Regions from separate parts of the Homo sapiens genome. Here region 2 is linked to region 1. The links come from fine-mapping of genetic effects on gene expression. A gene starts in region 1. The other region holds a variant in brackets. All regions are shown on one strand. Distances are from middle to middle. Region 1 holds the start of PLIN4 (perilipin 4). Region 2 holds the start of LRG1 (leucine rich alpha-2-glycoprotein 1).

Region 1 (8,320 bases):
TGGCTCACGCCTGTAATCCCAGCACTTTGGGAGTCTGAGGCAGGTGGATCATCTGAAGTCAGGAGTTCGGGATCATCCTGGCCAACATGATGAAACCCTGTCTCTACTTAGAAAGAAAGAAAAAAAAAAAAAAAGCCAGGTGTGGTGGTGTGCACCTGTAGTCCCAGCTAGTTGTGAGGCTGACGCAGAAGAATTGCTTAAACCCGAGAGGCGCGGAGCTTGCAGTGAGCAGAGATCGCGCCACTGCACACCAGCCTGGGTGACAGAGCGAGACTCCATCTAACAAAAAATAATAGTAACAGCCTCCCGAAGAAATACACATTTTGCCCAATGCCTTCTGTTTGGGGCTTTGAAAAGTGAGCCCTGACTGGGTGTGGTGGTTGACACCTGTTATCACAGCACTTTGGGAGGCCAAGGTGGGAGGACTGCTTGAGCCCAGGAGTTGGAGGCTGCAGTGAGCCATGATCTTGCCCCTGCGCTCTCGCCTGGGTGACAGAGCAAGACTCTATCTCAAAAATGTTTTTAAAAAATACTTCCTAGGGAAACACACATTTTGCCCTATTTGGAACTTTGAAAAGTGAGCCCTCCTCTGCCCATGGGCCGTGCTGCTCAGCCTGCCATACTCGCTTGCTTTGCTGTTTGGGATTTGCCTCCAGAATAAAGGTCCTTTTTGTTGTTGAAAGGCCCACGTGTGTGTTCCAGCCAGGGTGAGTCTCAGTCCCAGGGGGCTGGGGGCCACGGAGGTGTGTCACTGCTGAGACATGGAGAAGGGGGTGTGTAGAGCCAGAGTTCAAGATCTAGAAGAATGGTGCTTCTCTGACCTGCCTGTCATCCTGTCTGGGATCCACCGTTACTGCCCAGCCCATGTGGGGTAAGCATTACCACTTAAAATTAGCCGGGCACCATGGCTCATATCGGTAATCCCAGCACTTTGGGAGGCTGAGGTGGGAGGATTTCATGAGCCCGGGAGTTTTGACACCAGCCTGGGCAACATAGGAGACCTTGTCTCTACGAAAAATTTTAAAATGACACATGGTACGAGCCTGTGCCCCAGCTACTCGGGAGGCTGAGGCAGCAGGATCGCTTGAGCCTAGGAAGTTGAGGTTGCAGTGAGCTTGGATCAGTAACCACTCCACTCCAGCCTGGGCAACAGAGTGAGACCCTGTCTCTAAAAATAAACAACAGCATTGCCCCTTTGGCCGCATGGAAGCTGTTCTCATCTTGGTACAGGTGAATTTCATGGAATTGCAGGGAGCAGAAAAGATGGGGAAGGAGTCAGATGGGGCAGCTCTCTCTCTACCTCCTGGTCCTGCAGGAGCTGGTCTTGCTGTGGTCTCTCCAGCTGCACTGGCCAGGATGGGAAGACAGAGGCAGGGCAAGGGCCATAGGCTGGTCTCGGGGGTTTCCTCCTGTCCTCTGACCGCATTCCTGGCTGCTCTTCCGACTCCCCTGGGGCTGGGCGGGGTGTTGGGAAACCACAGCTTGGTATGGTGAGGTCAGGGTGGCCCCTGACTTCCCTGGGACATAGTCCAGAGGGCAGCTCTGGGATCTCCGACCACTTCCACCAGCCAAATCTACCTCCCTGCTCCTGTTCTGGAATCTCCCACAGGTCCCCACTGCCCACAGACCAAACTCTTCACCTTCCAGCTTCCTCCTCCAGCCTGACCTGGATACTTTGCTCTCTTACCATTGAAGTGGGCACATTCCCACCTCCGGGCCTTTGCTGAGGCTGTGCGGCCACCTTGGAATACTCTTCCCACCCCCCATCCGTCCCTCGGACACATCTCATACATCCTCAAGGCCCAGCCTCAATGCCTCCTCCTCCAGGAAGGCTTCCAGGACTCCATCCCAGCCGGATACTTCCCTCCTCCGGTCCTCCACAGGCCACCTTCTCAAGGTTTCTTGCCCTTTCCACCTTGACTTTATAGCCACAGGCAGCCTTGCTCTCTCTTCCCACATGAGGCTGGGGGCTCCTGGCAGGGCCAGGCCTGTTGAGGATGATCAGAACAGCACATAGGGGTAGGCATTTTGGCAGAGGGAACAGCTTAGGGAAAGGCACAGCAGTAGGGAAATCAGTTTCACTGCAGCAGAGGTGAGGAAAAGAGAATGGGTTGAGCTAAGCCCTGGGATTTTTCTTTTCTTTTCTTTTCTTTGGGGGGGTGGGGAAGGAGTCTCACTCTGTCACCCAGGCTGGAGTGCAGTGGCGCGATCTTGGCTCACTGCAACCTCCACCTCCCAGGTTCAAGTGATTCTCCTGCCTCAGCCTCCCGAGTAGCTGGGATTACAGGCGTGCGCCACCACACACAGCTGATTTTTGTATTTTTAGTAGAGATAGGGTTTTGCCATGTTGGCCAGGCTGGTCTCGAACCCTGACCTCAGGTGATCCACCTGCCTCGGCCTCCCAAGATGCTGGGATTACAGGCATGAGTCACCGCGCCTGGCCCATTAATTCATTTAATTTTTATTTAAAGATATATTTTGGGCAGCCGGGCACAGTGGCTCATGCCTGTAACCCCAGCGCTTTGGGAGGCCGAGGCAGGTGGATCACGAGGTCAGGAGATCGAGACCATCCTGCCTAGCACAGTGAAACCCTGTCTCTACTAAAAATACAAAAAATTAGCTGGGTGTGGTGGCGAGTGCCTGTAGTCCCAGCTACTCGGGAGGCTGAGGCAGGAGAATGGCATGAACCCGGGAGGCAGAGCTTGCAGTGAGCCGAGATCGCACCACTGTACTCCAGCCTGGGCGACAGAGCGCGACCCCGCCTCAACAGAAATATATATATATAAAATATATTTTTTTTATTTATTTTTTTTTTTTTTTCTTTTGTTCTTTTGAGGCGGGGTGGCGCTCTGTCGCCCAGGCTGGTCTCAAACTCCTGTGCTCAAGCCAATCCTCCTGCCTCGGTCTCCCTAAATGCTGGGGTTACAGGGTGAGCCATGGCACCTGGCCTGAGGTATATATTTTTTAAAGGGAGAGGAGATCCAGGAATGCCTCTTTGAGGAAGTGATATTTGAGGAAAGACCTGGAAGGAGGTGAGGGATGTGGGAAAGGGTGCTGGAGGCAAAAGCAACAACCCACACGAAAGCCCTGAGGAAGGGTGTGCGGGGCTAAGCAGGCACAGTCACGTGTGTCTTTGAGGGACTCTGTCCTGGCATGTTATGGGAACAGTGAAAAGGCCCGTGTGGCTGGAGCAGAGTGAAGAGAAGAAGGAGAGGAAGGTGGGGAGCAGACGAGGCAGGTTATGCAGGGCCTACCGGGCTGCAGGAAGGGGACTTGGGCTTTGACCCTGGGCTCCCACCCCGGAGAAGGTGGGAGCCATGGAGGGTGCTGGGCAGAGGAGGGGTAGATCCTGGCTGGGATGTTTATGATCACTTTTTAATTTTTTCTCTCCACACACTGGGCTGTGGCTGCCCTTTGGGAAGGGGAGGGGCACCCAGAGCTCTCCCAGCCACCCTTGGGAAGCACTGGCTGGTAGAAGAGGTTGGGGGACACCCCCCCTTCTGTTCCCCCACTGTTTGGCAAACACAGTGTCGGCTCCAAGGAGACAGACGGCCTGGGAATCATCAGATCCTGTGGCTGTACCCTCCCTCCTCCCAGCCCAGTGCCCAGAGCCACCCATGGGGTCTGCCCTCTCACCCCCAATAACACAGGGCTAGGAACCCTGTCTCAGGGGCAGGTAGGAGGGGGACACAGCCCAGGGTGGGCGTTACGGCCATTCCTCTGCCCACCCACCCACAGACAGCCCAGCACATAGGCTGGGCTCAGCACGAAGGTCCTGGGTCTGGGTTTGAATCCCGTCCTCACCACTTCCTGGAACAGGAGGGTCTGGGTTTGAATCCCATCCTCACCACTTCTGGAACAGGACGCCTCCTCCAGGGAGCCTCCCTGGGTTGGCCCAAGCCCCCCAGGCTGGGTTTCCACTCCTAGGGTGCCCCCAGCTTGGCTGGTGCTCCATCTTGGTCTGCGTTTTGGCCCAAGTCCCTTCCGGAGAGTGATGGGCTCCCCTCCACACTGAGGACACCCCCTGCTCCTTGCCGAGACCCCGAGACCCCGCTTCTGCCTGGGTAACGCGAAGGCAGCATTTGTTCAGTGCATGACCTCATCTCACAGAGGCTCACAACCACTCTCTGTGTTGCTCCATTGAGCCAAACGTGTATTAAGCGCCAAATGTATGCCAGGCACTGTTCTGTGGGCGGAAGAGGGTGCCCTGTGGGAACCTGCAGGGAAGGTGTTCCAGGCAGAGGGCACAGCCCGTGCAGAGGCCCTAAGGCAGGACCGTGCCAGGTGCGCTGGAGGCATAGCGAGGAGGCCTGTGTGGCTGGGATGAAGCAAGCGAAGGAGGAAGCTGGGGGAGATGAGAGCAGAGAAGAAGCTGGATGTTACGGGACGTGGTGCGGAGTACGAGAGAGAAACCTGAAGCAAAAAGATGGTAACTGGCCAAGGCATCCTGGTGCAGCAGAGATTTGAACTACACCCACCTCGTGGATGGAACTGGAGGCTCAGGGGCCCGGGAGGGGAGCCCATCTGGCCTGTGAGCCACTCAGCCTGATGCAAGCTGTGGGCAGGAAACAGGGGAAAGGTGCTGGGCCTGGGCCCATGCTGGGCTGGGCAGGTAGCCATGTGACCGTCCAGGCCACCTCCCCCGGGCCCATTGGCCGCCTGCCGCTGCTGGCTGGGCCTGCGCCTGCCCCGGACCCTATAAGGCCAGGGAGCTGAGGGTAGAGCCAGCTGCCAGCCGGGCCGGTCCGTCCTCCAGGGGACCCCGCGCAGTCCAGGTGAGCGGGGCCGCGTCTGCTTCGGTGACACCAGGGTGAGGCCAGGCCTGCAGGTGGGTGTCGGGCTGCTCAGGCTTTCAGTGGGGAGTGGGTGTGGGATGGGAGGCTAGGGAACCCCCATTCACGCACCTTCTCTGCCCCCTTCCAGCTTCTCACGTTCTCACTATGTCTGCTCCAGACGAAGGGAGACGGGATCCCCCCAAACCGAAGGGCAAGGTAAAGAGGGGAAATGGGGCAGATTCTTGCTGGGGCCTGGAGATGCCCCAGAGCCGGGGAAGGTGACCTCCACAGTCCTGGGGTCTCGAATCTGGAGAGGTGCTTCCCTGGTGGGCTGGTGGGGGCGGTCTGGGAGCCATGATGCCAATCCCTTCCTTTCTGACCCAAGCTGGAGGCGGGGGACCCACGCAGACCTCGACACCTTCCCCAGCAAGTGACCTTGGGCCGGCCTCAGCTCCGCCCCTCTCTGAGCCTCAGTTTCCCCATCTGTGCAGTGGGGATCCTGGAAGGAAAAGGTCTTTGGAGATCGGGTAGACGATCTTTTCCTCTGTGCATGGGAGGCAGGCTGAGTCTGCCCATTGCCCAGGTGTGGAAATTGAGGCTGAGTGGCTGAAACACTTTCCTGAGGTCACCCAGGAGCAAGGGGCCGGGGCGGCATTGGGCTGATCAATCGATGCTTCCTCTGACCCGTTCCTGCCGAGGCTTGGCCTGCTCATCCTGCACACCCCCCGCCCCCATGCAGACCCTGGGCAGCTTCTTTGGGTCCCTGCCTGGCTTCAGCTCTGCCCGGAACCTGGTGGCCAACGCACATAGCTCGGCGAGAGCCCGGCCGGCCGCTGACCCCACAGGAGCGCCTGCTGCCGAGGCTGCCCAACCACAGGCTCAGGGTGAGTGGCTGGCCCAGCTGGGGGCGTGGGGGGACTCTACACATGGACCTGGGAGAAGGAGCTCCCCGGGCAGGGACTTCCAGCCATTTGGGGAGTCCTCCATATTTGTCTGTGTGCTCTCATCAGACACTAGGACATCTTGTGGTGGATGGGGAAACTGAGGCATAAATATGGGGGGTGAGTGGCCGAAGGTGGCTTTCAACCCAGCCTGTCTCCCTGCAATGCCCCCCCACTCAGTCCCTCGGCCGTTCCCCCACCCTGCACTCCGTTTCTGATGCACCATGGCCCAGGCTGGGTGCTCTGCCCATCTGAGCTCATCAGAGTGAGATCCAGACTCCCAGGGAGGAGCAACAGCTCCCCTGGGGTCACACAGCCCAGGGGCTCCCCAGCCTCCTGTGGCTCAGCTTGGGCGATCAGGGACGGTGACAGGGAACCCAGGGTTGGGGCAGCCGCCTGAGCTGGGCCTCCCTCTGGGCCCAGAGCCCCAGGCAGCTGACTTCTGCTCCACATGCCTTGGCCTGGCAATAGGCAGCAGGCAGCTGCGGTGGGGGCGGGGCGGGCTGGGCAAGGGGCTGTTCCCCCATGCCAGGCTATATGAACCCCGGGACTCAGGGTGGGTGTCCACCCAGCAGAGGAAGTTCCACAGAGCCCTACTTCAGGGAACAGCGGCCCTGGGCTTGGGGGGAGCCCCCAGCGGGGTTGGGGGGTGACCAGGTCTGGCTGGTAGCCGTGGATGTCACCTCCTGCTGTCCCTGGCGGGGTAGCTGAAACATTCCTGACCTTTTAGGCTGTGCCTGGCTATTGTGCAATGGGCAGCCGGGTAGATGGTTCTAACTGCATCCCTCACTCTCCCTGACCGGCCCCTGTCCCCACAGTGGCTGCCCACCCAGAGCAGACGGCCCCATGGACGGAGAAGGAGCTGCAACCTTCGGAAAAGGTGAGAGGATGTGCAGGGCAGGGTCTGATGTGGCAGGAGCCCTGGGGGTGCCCCCTCCTGCGACATTTCAGTTCCTGCTATCTGGGGGGCTGCTCCCTCCTGGGACATTTCAGTTCCTGCTATCTGGGGGGCTGCTGTGGGCCTGAGGGAAGGCAGACAGCCTGGGGATCCCAGGCGGAGCTTCCCCTCTGAGCCTCTATTTCCACATCTGTGAAATGGGTGCAGTGCTACCCCACTCTAATCACGTAAGGTTCCAGTCTACACAGGGCTGTGCCTGGCAAGATGAGACCAAAGCGACAGCAGCGTAAGCACTTTATTTCTTCTACTTTTATTTTTTGAGATGCAGTTTTGCTGTTTCACCCAGGCTGGAGTGCAGTGGCACAATCTCAGTTCACTGCAACCTCTGCCTCCCAGGTTCAAGCGATTCTCCTGCCTCAACCTCCTGAGTAGCTGGGACTACAAGTGCTCACCGCCATGCCCAGCTAATTTTTGTATTTTTAGTAGATACGGGGTTTCACCATGTTGGTTTCACCAGGCTGGTCTCCAACTCCTGACCTCAAGTGATCCACCCACCTCAGCCTCCCAAAGTGCTGGGATTACAGGCATTAGCCACTGCGCCTGGCAAGAGGATCTGTTTTAATCAGCATTTTCCAGATGAGGATATTAGCTCAGAGAGGGCATGTGGCTTGCCTAAGGCCACACAGCGAGTGTCGGGAGCAGGAGAGGGTAAAAAGCTGGGACTTGAACCTGGGTCTCTCCAACTACAGGGCCCAAGGTGCCCACCTGAGCCAAAGCTGGGAGATGTGTTCTGAGAATACAATTTCCGGGCTTCTCAACCTCAGTACTGTGGATATTTGGGGTTGGATCATTCTCTGGGGTGGGGCCATCCTGGGCACTGCAGGGTGCCGAGCAGCATCCCTGGTCTCCACCTACTCCATGCCAGGAGCCTCCCCAAGTTGTGACAACTACAGATGTCTCCAGACATCACCCAGTGCCCCCTGGGGGCAGAATCACCCAGTTGAAAACTACTGAATTAAAATAGCACCTTGGCCGGGCACGGTGGTTCACACCTGTAATCCCAACACTTTGGGAGGCTGAGGCAGGCAGATCAGTTGAGCTCAGGAGTTTGAGACCAGCCTGGCCAACATGGTGAAACCTCATCTCTACTAAAAATACAAAAATTAGCTGGGCATGGTGGTGCACGCCTGTAATACCAGCTACTCAGGAGGCTGAGGCAGAAAAATTACTGAACCCAGGAGGCGGAGACTGCAGTGAGCCGAGATCTCGCCACTGCACTCCAGTCTGGGTGACAGAGTGAGACTCTGTTTCAAAAAACAAACAAACAAAAAAAGTAGCACCTCACAGGTACACCCGAGAGTTAGAACTCCTAGGCCATCATCATCTTCATTCATTTTTGTGTTTTTTAATTTTTTTTTATCTTTTGAGACAGTCTCGCTCTGTCACCCAGGCTGGAGGGCAATGGCACGATCTCGGCTCACTGCAATCTCTGCCTCCTGGGTTCAAGCGATTCTCCTGCCTCAGCCTCCAGAGTAGCTGGGATTACAGGTGCCTGCCACCATGCCTGGCTAATTTTTGTATTTTTAGTAGAGACAGGGTTTCGCCATGTTGGTCAGGCTGGTCTCGAACTCTTGACCTCAGGTGATCCACCTGCCTCGGCCTCCCAAAGTGCTGGGATTACAGGCGTGAGCCACCGTGCCCGGCCT
Region 2 (8,320 bases), 21 kb before region 1:
GACCTGGACTCGGGGCTGCTGCCCACGCCCGAGCAGACGCCGCTGCCGCAGAAGCGCCTGCCCACTCCGCACCCGCACCCCCACGCCCTGGGCCCCCGCGCCTGGGACCACGGCCACCCCCTGCTCCCGGCCTCCGCTTCATCCTCCCTCCTGCTGCTGGCGCCCGCCCGGGCCCCCGAGCAGCCCCCCGCGCCTGGGGAGCCGACCCCCGACGGCCGCCTCTATGCTGCCCGGCCCGGCCGCGCCTCCCACGGCGACTTCCCGCTCACCCCCCACGCCAGCCCGGACCGCCGGCGGGTGGTGTCCGCGCCCACGGGCCCCTTGGACCCAGCCTCAGCCGCCGATGGCCTCCCGCGGCCCTGGAGCCCGCCCCCGACGGGCAGCCTGAGGAGGCCACTGGGCCCCCACGCCCCTCCGGCCGCCACCCTGCGCCGCACCCACACGTTCAACAGCGGCGAGGCCCGGCCTGGGGACCGCCACCGCGGCTGCCACGCCCGGCCGGGCACAGACTTGGCCCACCTCCTCCCCTATGGGGGGGCGGACAGGACTGCGCCCCCCGTGCCCTAGGCCGGGGGCCCCCCGATGCCTTGGCAGTGCCAGCCACGGGAACCAGGAGCGAGAGACGGTGCCAGAACGCCGGGGCCCGGGGCAACTCCGAGTGGGTGCTCAAGTCCCCCCCGCGACCCACCCGCGGAGTGGGGGGCCCCCTCCGCCACAAGGAAGCACAACCAGCTCGCCCTCCCCCTACCCGGGGCCGCAGGACGCTGAGACGGTTTGGGGGTGGGTGGGCGGGAGGACTTTGCTATGGATTTGAGGTTGACCTTATGCGCGTAGGTTTTGGTTTTTTTTGCAGTTTTGGTTTCTTTTGCGGTTTTCTAACCAATTGCACAACTCCGTTCTCGGGGTGGCGGCAGGCAGGGGAGGCTTGGACGCCGGTGGGGAATGGGGGGCCACAGCTGCAGACCTAAGCCCTCCCCCACCCCTGGAAAGGTCCCTCCCCAACCCAGGCCCCTGGCGTGTGTGGGTGTGCGTGCGTGTGCGTGCCGTGTTCGTGTGCAAGGGGCCGGGGAGGTGGGCGTGTGTGTGCGTGCCAGCGAAGGCTGCTGTGGGCGTGTGTGTCAAGTGGGCCACGCGTGCAGGGTGTGTGTCCACGAGCGACGATCGTGGTGGCCCCAGCGGCCTGGGCGTTGGCTGAGCCGACGCTGGGGCTTCCAGAAGGCCCGGGGGTCTCCGAGGTGCCGGTTAGGAGTTTGAACCCCCCCCACTCTGCAGAGGGAAGCGGGGACAATGCCGGGGTTTCAGGCAGGAGACACGAGGAGGGCCTGCCCGGAAGTCACATCGGCAGCAGCTGTCTAAAGGGCTTGGGGGCCTGGGGGGCGGCGAAGGTGGGTGGGGCCCCTCTGTAAATACGGCCCCAGGGTGGTGAGAGAGTCCCATGCCACCCGTCCCCTTGTGACCTCCCCCCTCTGACCTCCAGCTGACCATGCATGCCACGTGGCTGGCTGGGTCCTCTGCCCTCTCTGGAGTTTGCCTCCCCCAGCCCCCTCCCCATCAATAAAACTCTGTTTACAACCACCGGCCCCCATGACTCTGGCTCTGCTCTGCCTCCTGGGGGTGGCACGGGTGGGGGCACCCTCAAAAGTCAAGGCCAGGCCGGGCGCGGTGGCTCACGCCTGTAATCCCGGCACTTTGGGAGGCCGAGGTGTGCAGATCACTTGAGGTCAAGAGTTCGAGACTAGCCTGGCCAACATGGCAAAACCCCGTCTCTACTAAAAATACAAAAAATCAGCCAGGCTTGGTGGCGGGTTCCTGTAATTCCAGCTACTCGGCCGACTGAGGCAGAAGAATAGCTTGAATCTGAGAGTCAGAGGTTGCAGTGAGCTGAGATCACACCACTGCACTACAGCCTGGGTGACAGAGCGAGACGCTGTCTCAAAAAAAAAAAAAAAAAAAAGGCTGGGTCAAAACAAATCTGGGGAGCTGAGTGTGGAAACATGGAGACTTCGGGGTCCCCATCTTCATCTGCATAGGAGCCAGTTTCTTTTTCTTTTTCTTTTTCTTTTTTTGAGACAGAGTCTCACTTTGTCACCCAGGCTGGAGTATAGTGGCGCGATCTCGGCTCACTGCAACCTATGCCTCCTGGGTGCAAGCAATTCTCCTGTCTCAGCCTCTCCAGTAGCTGGGACTACAGGCACCCGCCACCACGCCCCGCTAATTTTTGTATTTTTAGTACAGACGGGGTTTCATCATATTGGTCAGGCTGGTCTCGAACTCCTGAACTCAGGTGATCCGCTTGCCTCGGCCTCCCAAAATGCTGGGATTACAGGCGTGAGCCACTGCGCCTGGCCAGCCTTATGAATTTTGTTTTAAGTGGGACAAGAAGCCATCAGAGAGTTTTAAGCAGGGATGTGATCTCATTTCATTTTAATGGATCGTTTTGTTACTGTGTCACTACATTTCACAAGCCTTCCTTCCTCTCAGTCCATGTTGATTAAGACCAACTAACGGCTGGGCTCCGGAGACTGGGCAGGGCACAAGACTGACGGAGTGCAGTGGCTCACGTCTATAACCCCAGCACTTTGAGAGACTGAGAAGATTCCTTGAGCCCAGGAGTTTGAGACCAGCCTAGGTAACATACAAAAGAATTTTTTAAATTAGCCAGGCATGGTAGCATGTGCCTGTATTCCCAGCTACTCGGGAGGCTGAGGCAGGAGAATCGTTTGAACCCAGGAGGTGGAGCTTGCAGTGAGCCGAAATTGCATCACTGCACTCCAGCATGGGTGGCAGAGGGAGACTCCATCTCAAAAAAAATTAGCCAGGCATGGTGGCACGTGCCCGTAGTCCCAGCTACTTGGGAGGCCTTGGACCCATGGTCAAAGCTACAGTTAGCTATGATTGCACCACACTGCTCCAAGCTGGGTAACAGAGCAAAATGCTGTCTCAAAAAAAAAAAAAAATGACGGGGCATGGTGGCTCACACCTGTAATTTTAGCAGTTTAGGAGGCCGAGGCCAGTGGATCACATGAGCTCAGGAGTTCAAGACCAGCCTGGGCCACATGGCAAAATCCTGTCTCTATTAAAAATATAAAAATTAACCAGGCACGCTGGTGCATGCCTGTAGTCCCAGCTACTCGGGAGGCTGAGGTGGGAGAATGGCGTGAACCCGGGAGGCGGAGCTTGCAGTGAGTGGAGATCACGCCACTGCACTCCAGCCTAGGCAACAGTGCAAGACTCTGTCTCAAAAAAAAAAAGAAAAAAAAAATAGTCATAGCTGCAGATAAAGGTGACACCATCATACCTAAATATTTAGAACTCAACAAGAATGCAAGCACTCTGCAGCCAAGTCCATGAGATGCAGCCAAAGCTGTTCTCAAAGGGAAATTTGTAGCCTCCAAACGCATTTAATAGGAAATGAGGAAGAATGGAAACAATAGCATGGATGTCAGATTCAGATGAAGAGAAAAAAGGGCAGAAGGAGCCCTTGGAGATTTGAGTTCAGCTTCATAGATGGGGAAACTGAGGCCAAGAAAAGTTAAGTCACTTGCCAAAGGTCACAAAGCAAAGGTGTTCATGACAGAGCTGGAATTCAGAACCAGGTTTGGTTCCTCCCAAGCCACTGTCTAAGGACCGTAGAGACGTTTGGCATTACTCACTATTGGACTGTATTTTTAAAATGACTTCTTTTAAAAAAAGCAATATCAACATACCATGAAATCAAGACGAGTTTTTTTGTTCTTTTCAGTGAGCTTCTGGGTTGCTCAAGTTTATGGTAAATCCCTCCTCTTGCTCAGAGAGCTGTCCCTGTCTCCAGGAATAGTGCCTTGCAAACCTTGACCCTTGAACTCCGGGTTGGGGGAAGTGAGGATGCAACTAGAGAGACTCTTGGATGCCCCCCAAAAATCAGGAAGCAAGGAAAGAAAAACCTGTGTTCTAGAAGCAGGGTCAAAAAGGGGTTGAACAGGAAACAATTTCCAGGAAGCAATTTTGTAATCCTGACCCCTCCCCTTCCCCTGCCTGGCTTAGGCTCAGCCCCTATCAGGAACTGGACGGGGGTGGGGACTTCCCCAGGGTTGGTTCCCCTGCCCCCAGTCCAGGCAGGTATAAGGCCACCTCCGCAGGCCAGGACAACCCAGAAGCAAAAGAGCAGAGCTACCATGTCCTCTTGGAGCAGACAGCGACCAAAAAGGTAGGTCCCCACACTACCTGTCCTAGGCAGGTTTGAACGCCAGACCATGCGGAGATACAGGACATTCCAGCTAACCCATAGAAGTCACAGGGAGCAGATACAGGCCTGGTGGCTGGCACAGATCAACCTTATCTGTGACAGAAAGACTGGCGCGTGCACACACACACACACCCCTACAGAAGCCCAGGTGGGCATGGGCAGCAGGGAGCCGGGGGAGGCTTCTTGTTAGAGGCCTGGGGCCACAGTGACCAAGGCTGTCGAGATCATGTCTGATGGCTGCCGGGCCAGGGAAGCCCTGGAGGAGGAGGGGAAGCCCCAGGCTTCCAAGGGTTGTGGTGCTAAGTGTAAACCACCGCTTCCCAAGGCCAAATGCCCACCCTCAGACCTGGCCAAAGCAGGACACACTTTTCATGTTCAGAGGCTGCAGTGAGCTGTGATCATGCCAGTTCCCTCCAGCCTGGGCAACTGAGCAAGACTCTGTCTCAAAAACATGAACCTGAACGTCTGTCTTCCTCCAAGCACCCAATTGGTCAAGAGTGGACAAAAAGACCAG[G/T]ATCCCAGAGCAGAGAAGTCTTCATGGAAAAGAGGGCATTGGAGCTGGGGCTTTGAAGGATGAATAGGAGTTCACATCAAAACACAGAGCCAGGGAGACAAGGACTGACCCAGAAAATAAGCCAGATCAGAAGAAACTAGCAAGTTGGACTGTGAATAATTAACAGCTCATGGGGGCTAGGCTGGTGATGGGGAAGTGTATTCATATTATGCGGGAGTTACACTCAGAAACTCAACTTTCCTAGAATTATAATTCTCCCTGGAACAGGGGCCACTTCTGGCAGCTGTCGGGGGTGAGGGTAGAAGCTGGAAGAGGAGGAGGAAGCAACTGCCCTAGTACAGGTGAGAGATGAGGTAGCATAGTCCAGGCTGGTAGCCGCAGAGATGGGAAGAAGTGGGCGGATTTGCTGGTGTATTTTCACCTAGCTGAGTGTATTTTCACTGTGGTTTAGTAAGCATCTTCTGTTACTGCCTGCAGCCCAGGGGGCATTCAACCCCATGTTTCTAGAACTCTGTTCCTGCTGCTGCTGTTGGCAGCCTCAGCCTGGGGGGTCACCCTGAGCCCCAAAGACTGCCAGGTGTTCCGCTCAGACCATGGCAGCTCCATCTCCTGTCAACCACCTGCCGAAATCCCCGGCTACCTGCCAGCCGACACCGTGCACCTGGCCGTGGAATTCTTCAACCTGACCCACCTGCCAGCCAACCTCCTCCAGGGCGCCTCTAAGCTCCAAGAATTGCACCTCTCCAGCAATGGGCTGGAAAGCCTCTCGCCCGAATTCCTGCGGCCAGTGCCGCAGCTGAGGGTGCTGGATCTAACCCGAAACGCCCTGACCGGGCTGCCCCCGGGCCTCTTCCAGGCCTCAGCCACCCTGGACACCCTGGTATTGAAAGAAAACCAGCTGGAGGTCCTGGAGGTCTCGTGGCTACACGGCCTGAAAGCTCTGGGGCATCTGGACCTGTCTGGGAACCGCCTCCGGAAACTGCCCCCCGGGCTGCTGGCCAACTTCACCCTCCTGCGCACCCTTGACCTTGGGGAGAACCAGTTGGAGACCTTGCCACCTGACCTCCTGAGGGGTCCGCTGCAATTAGAACGGCTACATCTAGAAGGCAACAAATTGCAAGTACTGGGAAAAGATCTCCTCTTGCCGCAGCCGGACCTGCGCTACCTCTTCCTGAACGGCAACAAGCTGGCCAGGGTGGCAGCCGGTGCCTTCCAGGGCCTGCGGCAGCTGGACATGCTGGACCTCTCCAATAACTCACTGGCCAGCGTGCCCGAGGGGCTCTGGGCATCCCTAGGGCAGCCAAACTGGGACATGCGGGATGGCTTCGACATCTCCGGCAACCCCTGGATCTGTGACCAGAACCTGAGCGACCTCTATCGTTGGCTTCAGGCCCAAAAAGACAAGATGTTTTCCCAGAATGACACGCGCTGTGCTGGGCCTGAAGCCGTGAAGGGCCAGACGCTCCTGGCAGTGGCCAAGTCCCAGTGAGACCAGGGGCTTGGGTTGAGGGTGGGGGGTCTGGTAGAACACTGCAACCCGCTTAACAAATAATCCTGCCTTTGGCCGGGTGCGGGGGCTCACGCCTGTAATCCCAGCACTTTGGGAGGCCCAGGTGGGCGGATCACGAGGTCAGGAGATCGAGACCATCTTGGCTAACATGGTGAAACCCTGTCTCTACTAAAAATATAAAAAATTAGCCAGGCGTGGTGGTGGGCACCTGTAGTCCCAGCAACTCGGGAGGCTGAGGCAGGAGAATGGCGTGAACTTGGGAGGCGGAGCTTGCGGTGAGCCAAGATCGTGCCACTGCACTCTAGCCTGGGCGACAGAGCAAGACTGTCTCAAAAAAATTAAAATTAAAATTAAAAACAAATAATCCTGCCTTTTACAGGTGAAACTCGGGGCTGTCCATAGCGGCTGGGACCCCGTTTCATCCATCCATGCTTCCTAGAACACACGATGGGCTTTCCTTACCCATGCCCAAGGTGTGCCCTCCGTCTGGAATGCCGTTCCCTGTTTCCCAGATCTCTTGAACTCTGGGTTCTCCCAGCCCCTTGTCCTTCCTTCCAGCTGAGCCCTGGCCACACTGGGGCTGCCTTTCTCTGACTCTGTCTTCCCCAAGTCAGGGGGCTCTCTGAGTGCAGGGTCTGATGCTGAGTCCCACTTAGCTTGGGGTCAGAACCAAGGGGTTTAATAAATAACCCTTGAAAACTGGATCGGATGAATTGGCTTTCATTGTGTTCCTAGCATCTTCTCAAATCAACTTCCCAGGACTCCAGGGTGAAGGAGGAAAAGAGGCATGGCCCAGGCCCTGGGGTGTGGGATATGGTCTCCCTAGGGGATGACAGTTGGGATCAATGGCCTGTGACTTCTCCTCTCCCTTCCCCCATCCTGGGACCTAACTGGAAATAAAACCTTGACTGTTGCCCGGGTGTCATTTTACCAGTGGATTTCTGCCAGGGCTTGTGTCCTAGGAGAAGGTTTAAGTTAAACCAGATTGCCCAGGTCTCCAAACGATTTGTCATGCTGACCTGAGATCATCGAAGGGGGCACCTGCCCCCGGGCAAGGTTGCAGGGGCAGGATGGGGCTGAAGGGATGAGCAGGGTCCCGGGCCCACCTGCTGATACAGCATTGGCCATGTGGGGGCTGCAATCGGATTTGGAAGACCCTGGGGCTTGGGGGCATGTCCAGTTTTCCCAGCTCCCTAAAAAATGACCATGCAGCCTGGCGCCGTGGCTCATGCCTGTAATCCAAACACTTTGGGAGGCTGAGGCAGGCAGATCACCGGAGGTCAGGAGTTCGAGACCAGACTGGCCAACATGGCAAAACCCTGTCTCTACTAAAAATACAAAAATTAGCCAGGCACAGTGGCACGTGCCTGTAATACCAGCTACTTGGGAGGGTCAGGCAGGAGAATCACTTGAACCTGGGAGGCGGAGGTTGCAGTGAGCCAAGATCACGCCACTGCACTCCAGGCTGGGCGACAGAGTGAAACTGTGTCTCAAAAATAAAAATAAAAATAAAAAGACCATGCCTACATCTGTGGTCATTCCAGGCAAGGCAATGAAAAGGCAGGGTTCTGAGGTCCAGCAGGGCTGGGTTTGAATAGGATCCCTGGCCGGGCACGGTGGCTCATGCCTGTAATCCTAGTACTTTGGGAGGCCAAGGCAGGCAAATCACGAGGTCAGGAGTCCAAGACCAGCCTGACGAATATGGTGACACCCCGTCTCTACTAAAAATACAAAAATTAGCTAGGTGTGGTGGCAGGCGCCTGTAATCCCAGCTACTCCGGAGGCCGAGGCAGGAGAATCACTTGAACCCAGGGGGCGGAGGTTGCAGTGTGTCAAGATCGCGCCACTGCACTCCAGCCTGGGCGACAGAGTCAGACTCTGTCTCAAAAAAAAAAAAAGAAAAAAAAGGAATAGGATCCCTCACTTGCTGTGGTATGCGGGGCAAGTGTTTTATGATCTCTGAGCCTCAGCTTGCTCATCTGTGAAATGGGGATCCTAGGGAAAGGGAAGGCCTGGCTTCTGGCTTAGTTAAGGGGCAGATTAAGAAATAAAAAGAGGCTGGGTGCAATGG

What was found. PIP is the estimated chance that this variant, and not a neighbour inherited with it, causes the effect.
Region 2: its variant is fine-mapped to the expression of PLIN4 in whole blood (TOPMed, PIP above 0.99).

The regions. Positions count from the first base shown.
Region 1 is chr19:4,514,893-4,523,212 of GRCh38, reverse strand. PLIN4 (perilipin 4) reads left to right here and starts at 4,727. Exons shown (of 8, transcript NM_001367868.2): 1 at 4,727-4,828; 2 at 4,924-4,991; 3 at 5,515-5,659; 4 at 6,535-6,596. The coding sequence starts at 4,941. It overlaps PLIN5 (perilipin 5), which reads left to right. Exons shown (of 8, transcript NM_001013706.3): 8 at 1-682.
Region 2 is chr19:4,535,848-4,544,167 of GRCh38, reverse strand. LRG1 (leucine rich alpha-2-glycoprotein 1) reads left to right here and starts at 4,132. Exons shown (of 2, transcript NM_052972.3): 1 at 4,132-4,186; 2 at 5,217-7,766. The coding sequence starts at 4,155. The coding sequence ends at 6,228. It overlaps SEMA6B (semaphorin 6B), which reads left to right. Exons shown (of 17, transcript NM_032108.4): 17 at 1-1,575. The coding sequence ends at 567. The variant G/T (reference allele first, on the strand shown) is at 4,740.